2 linked regions of the Homo sapiens genome follow. The main gene of each other region encodes a partner of the protein of the gene in region 2 in a complex. Each region holds a gene or a part of one and is shown on either strand. Other genes may lie near its edges.

The links. Proteins that work in one complex are often made in the same cells at the same time.
Region 1: the proteins of CASC3 (region 2) and EIF4A3 are in contact, whole or in part, in a crystal structure (PDB 2J0U), measured with the Homo sapiens proteins. Residues at the interface, in NP_031385.2 of Homo sapiens: Arg217, Trp218, Glu219, His220, Asp221, Lys222, Phe223, Glu225; in NP_055555.1 of Homo sapiens: Thr178, Arg179, Lys198, Ile201, Tyr202, Tyr205, Arg206, Tyr207, Leu208, Pro209, Pro210, Thr212, Lys231, Phe232.

The regions. Positions count from the first base shown.
Region 1 is NC_000017.11:80,133,817-80,137,225, forward strand, and holds the end of EIF4A3 (eukaryotic initiation factor 4A-III), read right to left. Parts: intron 2,520-3,409; coding exon 2,412-2,519; intron 2,316-2,411; coding exon 2,188-2,315; intron 1,691-2,187; coding exon 1,674-1,690; 3' UTR 553-1,673; downstream 1-552. UniProt on the Homo sapiens protein: ATP-dependent RNA helicase. Involved in pre-mRNA splicing as component of the spliceosome. Core component of the splicing-dependent multiprotein exon junction complex (EJC) deposited at splice junctions on mRNAs.
Region 2 is NC_000017.11:40,138,581-40,142,329, forward strand, and holds the start of CASC3 (protein CASC3), read left to right. Parts: upstream 1-1,956; 5' UTR 1,957-1,968; coding exon 1,969-2,199; intron 2,200-2,626; coding exon 2,627-2,654; intron 2,655-2,989; coding exon 2,990-3,027; intron 3,028-3,473; exon of another isoform or gene 3,474-3,520; intron 3,521-3,749. UniProt on the Homo sapiens protein: Required for pre-mRNA splicing as component of the spliceosome. Core component of the splicing-dependent multiprotein exon junction complex (EJC) deposited at splice junctions on mRNAs.

The DNA.
Region 1 (3,409 bases), about 40 Mb from region 2:
CCTGGGCCTGTAGTCTCGTGCTCCTCCCGCTCGGCCAGCAGTGCCACCTGGGAGTCTTGTTACCTGCAGGTTCTCACTCAGCAAGCCAGGACAGGGCCCGAGCACTTGCATTTCTAACCAACTCCTGATGATGCAGCTGGTCTACCAGCCACCAGCTGGCTAGCAAGGGTCCAGTCACAGTTTCAGTGAAAGGAAGTTCCATTCATAAACTATAGAATTTCAGATGCCTTCAAGTAGAATCACCTGATGAAATTTAAAAATTATTTCCAAGCTCACCCTAACCCGGAAATAAAGATTATCATCCCAACTAATTTCAGGAAGGGAGGGGCCAGTTTTAACATTTCCATTTCAAATATTAGAGCCCGGTCTGTGGCTCATGTGTGTAATCCCAGCACTTTGAGAGGCTGAGGCGGGAGGACTGCTTGAAGTCAGGAGTTTAAGACCAGCCTGGTCAACAGAGGGAGACCCTGTCTTTAAAAACATTTAAAAAATTAAAAATTGGGCAGCTGTGGTGCTGTGTGCCTATAAAGCTACAGGTAATTACTTTAAATATTTCAACAGATAACTTAAATACTTTAATAATTTAAATATTTAAACAGATAATTATCTGTTTTAGTTTGTCAACATTGTGGTAAGTCATGATCCTGCCACTATACTCCTGCCTGGGCGACAGGGAGATCCTGGGCTCTCAAAAAAACAACAAAAAAAAAAAATTAGAAAAATGAGGCCAGGCATGGTGGCTCACACCTGTTATCCCAGCACTTTGTAAGGCCAAGATGGGAGAATCACTTAAACCCATGAGTGACAGACCAGCCTAGGCCACAAAGTGAGACCCTGTCTCTACAAAAAATTTAAATATTAGCCAGATGTGCTGGCATGCACCTGTAGTCCCAGCTACTCAGGAGGGTGAGGTGAGAGGATCGCTTGAGCCCAGGAGGTTGTGGCTGCAATGAGTTGTGATGGTGCCACTGCTCTTCAGCCTGGGCAGCAGAGCAAAACTCATCAACGATGAAACTCTTTCCAAAAAAAAAGATTAGAAAAGTGAGTGAAATGGGCCGGGTGCAGTGGCTCACGCCTGTAATCCCAGCACTTTGGGAGGCCGAGGTGGGTGGATCACGAGGTCAGGAGATCGAGACCATCTTGGCTAACACGGTGAAACCCCGTCTCTACTGAAAATACAAAAAAATTAGCCTGGCATGGTGGCGGCCGCCTGTACTCCCAGCTACGTGGGAGGCTGAGGTAGGAGAATGGCATGAACCCAGGAAGTGGAGCTTGCGGTGAGAGGAGATCACGCCACTGCGCTCCTGCCTGGGCAACAGAGGGAGACTGTCTCAAAAAAAAAAAAGAAAAAGAAAAGAAAAAAAGAAAAGTGAGTGAAATGACCCAAGACTACACAGTAAGTTACTAGAGAAGGTGGTGGCACCTTAGAAGTATAGAGTTTATGGGAAAAGTTTTAAATTTTTAATGAAAAAGACTTAGAACAATGTATTATTTACATGTAAATAAGAAAAGAGAGCAGAATCCCCATATCCTCTTCAAAGGAAGGGAGACGGCAGGCCATTTATGAGAAGAAAGTCCATATAAACCCCATTAAGTAGAATCTGGATCTAAATACTTCCAAACAGGAGTACACAGCAGGTGAACAGTCTCCCTCATCCCACTGATCTGCTGCTTCAGATAAGATCAGCAACTGAAAGTGAAGAAAGAAACAGATTAAGGAACAACACAAACAAAATGAAAATTTGTTAACGTAAATTTAACTAAAACCTCACAACAGACTTCTCAAAACAAAAAACAGGCCAGACATAGTGGCTCACGCCTGTAATCCCAGCACTTTGGGAGGCTGAGGTGGGCAGATCATTTGAGGCCAGGAGTTCGAGACCAGCCTGGCCAACATGGTGAAACCCCGTCTCTACTAAAAATACAAAAATTAGCTGGCTATGGTGCACGTGTCTGTAATTCCAGCTACTCAGGAGGCTGAGGCAGGAGAATTGCTTGAACCCAGGAGGCAGAGGTTGCAGTGAGCCGAAATCGCGCCACTGCACTCCAGCCTGGGTGACAGAGCGAAACTTCGTCTCAAAAACAAAACAAAAAAACCCACAACAACAAAAAAACAAACTCAGGTGCCCCAAACTAAGAATAGGGAAGTTCCCTCTACAATTACAGTAGAGCTGGACGATTTCCTACCGTTCATCGGCATCTCATCAATCTGAGTGGAATAGTACTGCTCGATATCTCTGAGGATGCGGATGTCGTCATTCTTTACAAAGTTAATGGCCACACCCTTCCGGCCGTATCGACCTGATCTCCCAATTCTTCAGGAATAAAATAATATTACAGTTAGTATATATAACAATCAAGATTTAGTAAATGTGTCACAGAAGTGAAGCCAATGAGAGCTTGCACCTTACCTGTGTATGTACAATTCTCTGTTATTAGGGAGATCATAGTTAATGATGAGGGACACCTGAGGGACATCCAACCCCCTGGCCCAGACATCTGTAGAAATAAGCACTCGGCTGCAAAAAGAAAGAGTGTTTGAGGCGATTAAATTACTCATACAAGTGTAAGACTGGACTTGCTTCCATTGCTAATTTTAAGGAATCCTGGCTGCAGGTCCAAAATATACGAGATTCTCCTCTCTCAACAGTCTGTCTGCAAACGTGAAGCCTCAGGGACAGCACCAGAAACCCCTGTGCAGAGGGGCTGTTGGTGGATTTAGTTACTTCGGTCATGTGCTCCATCAGATTAAAAAAATAGACATCTTTTACTAGACTATCTTTAACTTGTTTAATCGGTCCTAAACCAATAATTGGGAAAAATACTTCACTTTTGCCTAGCAAAAAATTAAAAACGGTAACTTCAGCCGGGCATGGCGGCGGCTTATGCCTGTAATCCCAGCACTGCCAGAGGCTGAGGCAGATGGATCACCTGAGGTCAGGAGTTCGAGACCAGCCTGGCCAACATGGTGAAACCCCATCTCTACTAAAAATGAAAAAAAAAAAAAAAAATTAGCCATTCCAGCTACTCGGGAGGCTGAGACACAGGAGTCACTTGAAATCAGGAGGCAGAGGTTGCAGTGAGCCAAGATTGTGCCACTGCACTCCGGCCTGGGTAACGAAGTGAGACTGTCTCAAAAACAAACAAACAAAAAAAGACACACACAGCACATATGTTAAGCTGACCACAAGGTGGGCAAAGAAGGAAGTCTGAATCAAGTTCAAATGAATGAAACCACCCAATCCACGCTTTCTGACCACTGTGGAATTAAACTAATCGAAACGATGAACAGAAAACCCCCCTACTTACTGGAAAAGAAGACACACGCTTGTAACCAAGGTGACCAACCTGGCTAGTTAAGGCTAGTTATCACCTCAACCTAAGTATTACAGGAGCACAGCGGACCCCT
Region 2 (3,749 bases):
TCCGCCTACCGGGTTCACGCCATTCTGCCTCAGCCTCCCGAATAGCTGGGACTACAGGCGCCTGCCACCACGCCCGTCTATTTTTTTTTATTTTTAGTAGAGACGGGGTTTCACCGTGTTAGCCAGGATGGTCTTGATCTCCTGACCTCGTGATCTGCCCGCCTCGGCCTCCCAAAGTGCTAGGATTACAGGCGTGAGCCACCGCGCCCGGCCTTGAATTTTCCTTTCATCTCTGAAGGCATTCATAATTACTTCCAGTTTCATGTTATCTATAAATTTGATAAACATCAGGATCCTTAACCATGTCATTTATAAAAATTTTACTCAGGAAAGGCCGGGCGCGGTGGCTCACGCCTGTAATCCCAGCACTTTGGGAGGCCAAGAACGGCGGATCACGAGGTCAGGAGATCGAGACCATCCTGGCTAACACGGTGAAACCTCATCTCTACTAAAAACATAAAAAGTTAGTCGGGCCTGGCGGCAGACACCTGTAGTCCCAGCTACTCGGGAGGCTGAGGCAGGAGAATGGCGTGAACCCGGGAGACGGAGCTTTCAGTGGGCCGAGATCACCCCACTGCACCCCAGCCTGGGCGACAGACAGAGTGAGACTCCCTCTCAAAAAAAAAAAAAATATTTTACTCAGGGAAGAATTCTATGCCATGGTGGCCTTTGTTTGATAACATACATTATTAACGTGCACTCCTGTAGGTGCACTAAAAACTTAGCTCATGCACTTTGTATATCCTTATAATGGTCCAAAGAAAACACACTGATTCTTTTCAATGGTGGCCAATGCCTTGCCAAAATGAAATAATTTCCATAAACCTTAAGAAGGAAATAATGTCAGGATTTTGAATCAACATCTGTTTCTACTGACCATTTATTTTTAAATAGGTTCTAAAATCCTGACAAGGGCAGTAGCTCATGCCTGTAGTCCCAGCACTTTGGGAGGCTGAGACGAAAGGATCGCTTGATCCCAGCCAGGAGACAAGCCTGGGCAAGAGCGAGACCCCATCTCTACAAAAAACAGAAAAATTAGCCGGGTGTGGTAGTGTGTGCCCGTTGTCCCAACTACTAAGGAAGCTAAGGCAAGGAGGTCACCTGTGCCTGGGAGGTCAAGGCTGCAGTGAGCCGCGCTACTGCACTCCAGCCTGGGCAACAGAGTGAGACCCTGCCTCGAAAAAGCCAAAACAAAACCGGTAATACTGGCATCATACCAGCCTGCACTTTGGGACAGGTGATGGCTGGGGTGGGAAGAAACGTGAAGAGGAAATGAGAACACAGAGAAAACGCTGCAACAAGAAGTCCTCTGGCTTCACTGCAGACAACTGGTTTCTCCTTCGCCCGTTATCTTAAACAAGGCTGGTGCAGCAAATCTGACGCAGCACTACAGCTTTTAAGATTTACCTTGATTCGTGATTTTACCAAGCAAAGGAATGCAGTAAATTGACCTGCTTCAAACGTAGGTAGAAGTGAGAAATGGAAACAGAAAACCATGAAACAGCCCTAGTGTTGCAGTGAAGCTGTGACAGGTTGACTCCTTCCACTCGGGAAGCCCAAGATGGCCGGGCCAGGAACCCGGGAGGCTGCTGAAGTCTCAATTCCCCTCGCCCTAGGCCTGCCCAAGGGAAGTCAGGAGCCGCGCCACGCCCCCTTACATCACCGATAGACGTAATCCGGGTCGGCCGCAAACGTGCCGCAGGCCTAGGCCCCGCCCAGTGCCCCGCCCCTCCCCCAACACACACACACACACACACACACACACACACCCCAACACACACACACACACCCCAACACACACACACACACACACACACACACACACACACACACACACACACACACACACAGCGGGATGGCCGAGCGCCGCACGCGTAGCACGCCGGGACTAGCTATCCAGCCTCCCAGCAGCCTCTGCGACGGGCGCGGTGCGTAAGTACCTCGCCGGTGGTGGCCGTTCTCCGTAAGATGGCGGACCGGCGGCGGCAGCGCGCTTCGCAAGACACCGAGGACGAGGAATCTGGTGCTTCGGGCTCCGACAGCGGCGGCTCCCCGTTGCGGGGAGGCGGGAGCTGCAGCGGTAGCGCCGGAGGCGGCGGCAGCGGCTCTCTGCCTTCACAGCGCGGAGGCCGAACCGGGGCCCTTCATCTGCGGCGGGTGGAGAGCGGGGGCGCCAAGAGTGCTGAGGAGTCGGAGTGTGTGAGTGCGCGCAGGCGGGGCGGGGTGGGGACCGGGCGGCGAGCCGGCCGGGGGCGGGGTGTAGGTGATGCTAGGTAGTCTGTGAGTTGATAGTAGATACTGGGACTTTTTTTTGTTTTTGAGAGAAAAGGGGAGTTATCCCAATGCGAGTTTGCATCCGGAGTTCCAAGGGAAGAAGAAGGATTGGGGGTTTCTGGGAGGATGGTAGAGCCGCTGGAGATGGAAAGCGGATGTTTTATTCAGAAGTCGGGGCTGGAGGGAAGGAGACCAGACCTGCCTTGGCTACTACTTGATAAAGATTTACCTATCTCTGTCTCCCTCTCCAACCATTTTGTGCTGAATCTTCAGCTTTTCACCCACATTTCTTTATTGGGCTCCCCACCTCTGGAAATCACAGAACTAACCCATGTCTTCTGCTTTCTTTCAGGAGAGTGAAGATGGCATTGAAGGTGATGGTGAGTAGCATCTTTTACCCCATTAGGACAAGAGTTTTTTTTAACATAAACTCAGGTCATCTATTTCCAACATCGACATTCTCACACACTGTCACGGATTTAGGGCCACAGAGTGCCTTTTTGTAACATAGTGGTTAAGAGCATAGGCTTTAGCAGTATAGTCTTCAGCAAGTTACCCTCTGAGCCTGTTTCTCCTTTTGTAAGTGGGGACTATAATTTTATCCACGTTGTAGGTTGATGTCAGAATTAAATGAGACTCTTAGTCTGACCTGTAATAAGCAGCCAAAAAATGTTTCTGGGTTTCTTTTTTTCCACATATTTCTGTTTTATTTCAGCTGTTCTCTCGGATTATGAAAGTGCAGAAGACTCGGAAGTGAGTATGACAGGTTTTTTCCTATGGTATAGATCAGAAATGCTTTTTAAAAACGTGTACACACCTTCGTTGCAAACGTACCATGACCTCCGTGTTTATCCTCTTGTGTATTCTTCATTTATGCTTCTGAAAAAGTGTTACAGAAGGTCTTGTTCACTTTAGACCTAGGGAAAACTTGGGGCACGCCGTCTCAAGCCACAGGTGTTATACTGTTAGTTGGCTTCTCTTCCTGTCTGAAGAATATGAGGTTCTAAATAAGAGAGTGAGGATATCTTGAAGTCCTCTGAAAGATGTTTGACAGTTTGTTTTATGCAGTGTAGGTTGAGAAGCCAGCCAATTGGTTATTTTTTTCCAAATCTATCTGAAGACTTTGAAAGGGTAGGATTCGGAATGTTTTGTGCCAAGAGCATCCATCATTTTATAGGTGGGGATTTTTCTGTTTTTAGGAGAAAGTTTCCTGTCTTTTGGATAAACTACTAGAGATGCCATCAGAGTAAGTGTTTGTTTCCTGGGTTGTTGAGTGGACTCCTGAGTTCTGGTAATGGGATTATATATAGGGGGAATTGGATGGTGGATCAAAGATTTTGTCTATACATTTTTAGAACTGTTACTACATTTTAGAATCTGTTAAGCCCTTGAGGATGGAATAGTGAACACTATAACAAAATTCCTATCTTTAGAGATCTTACAACTCAATAAGGAAGTCAGACAAACATTCAAGC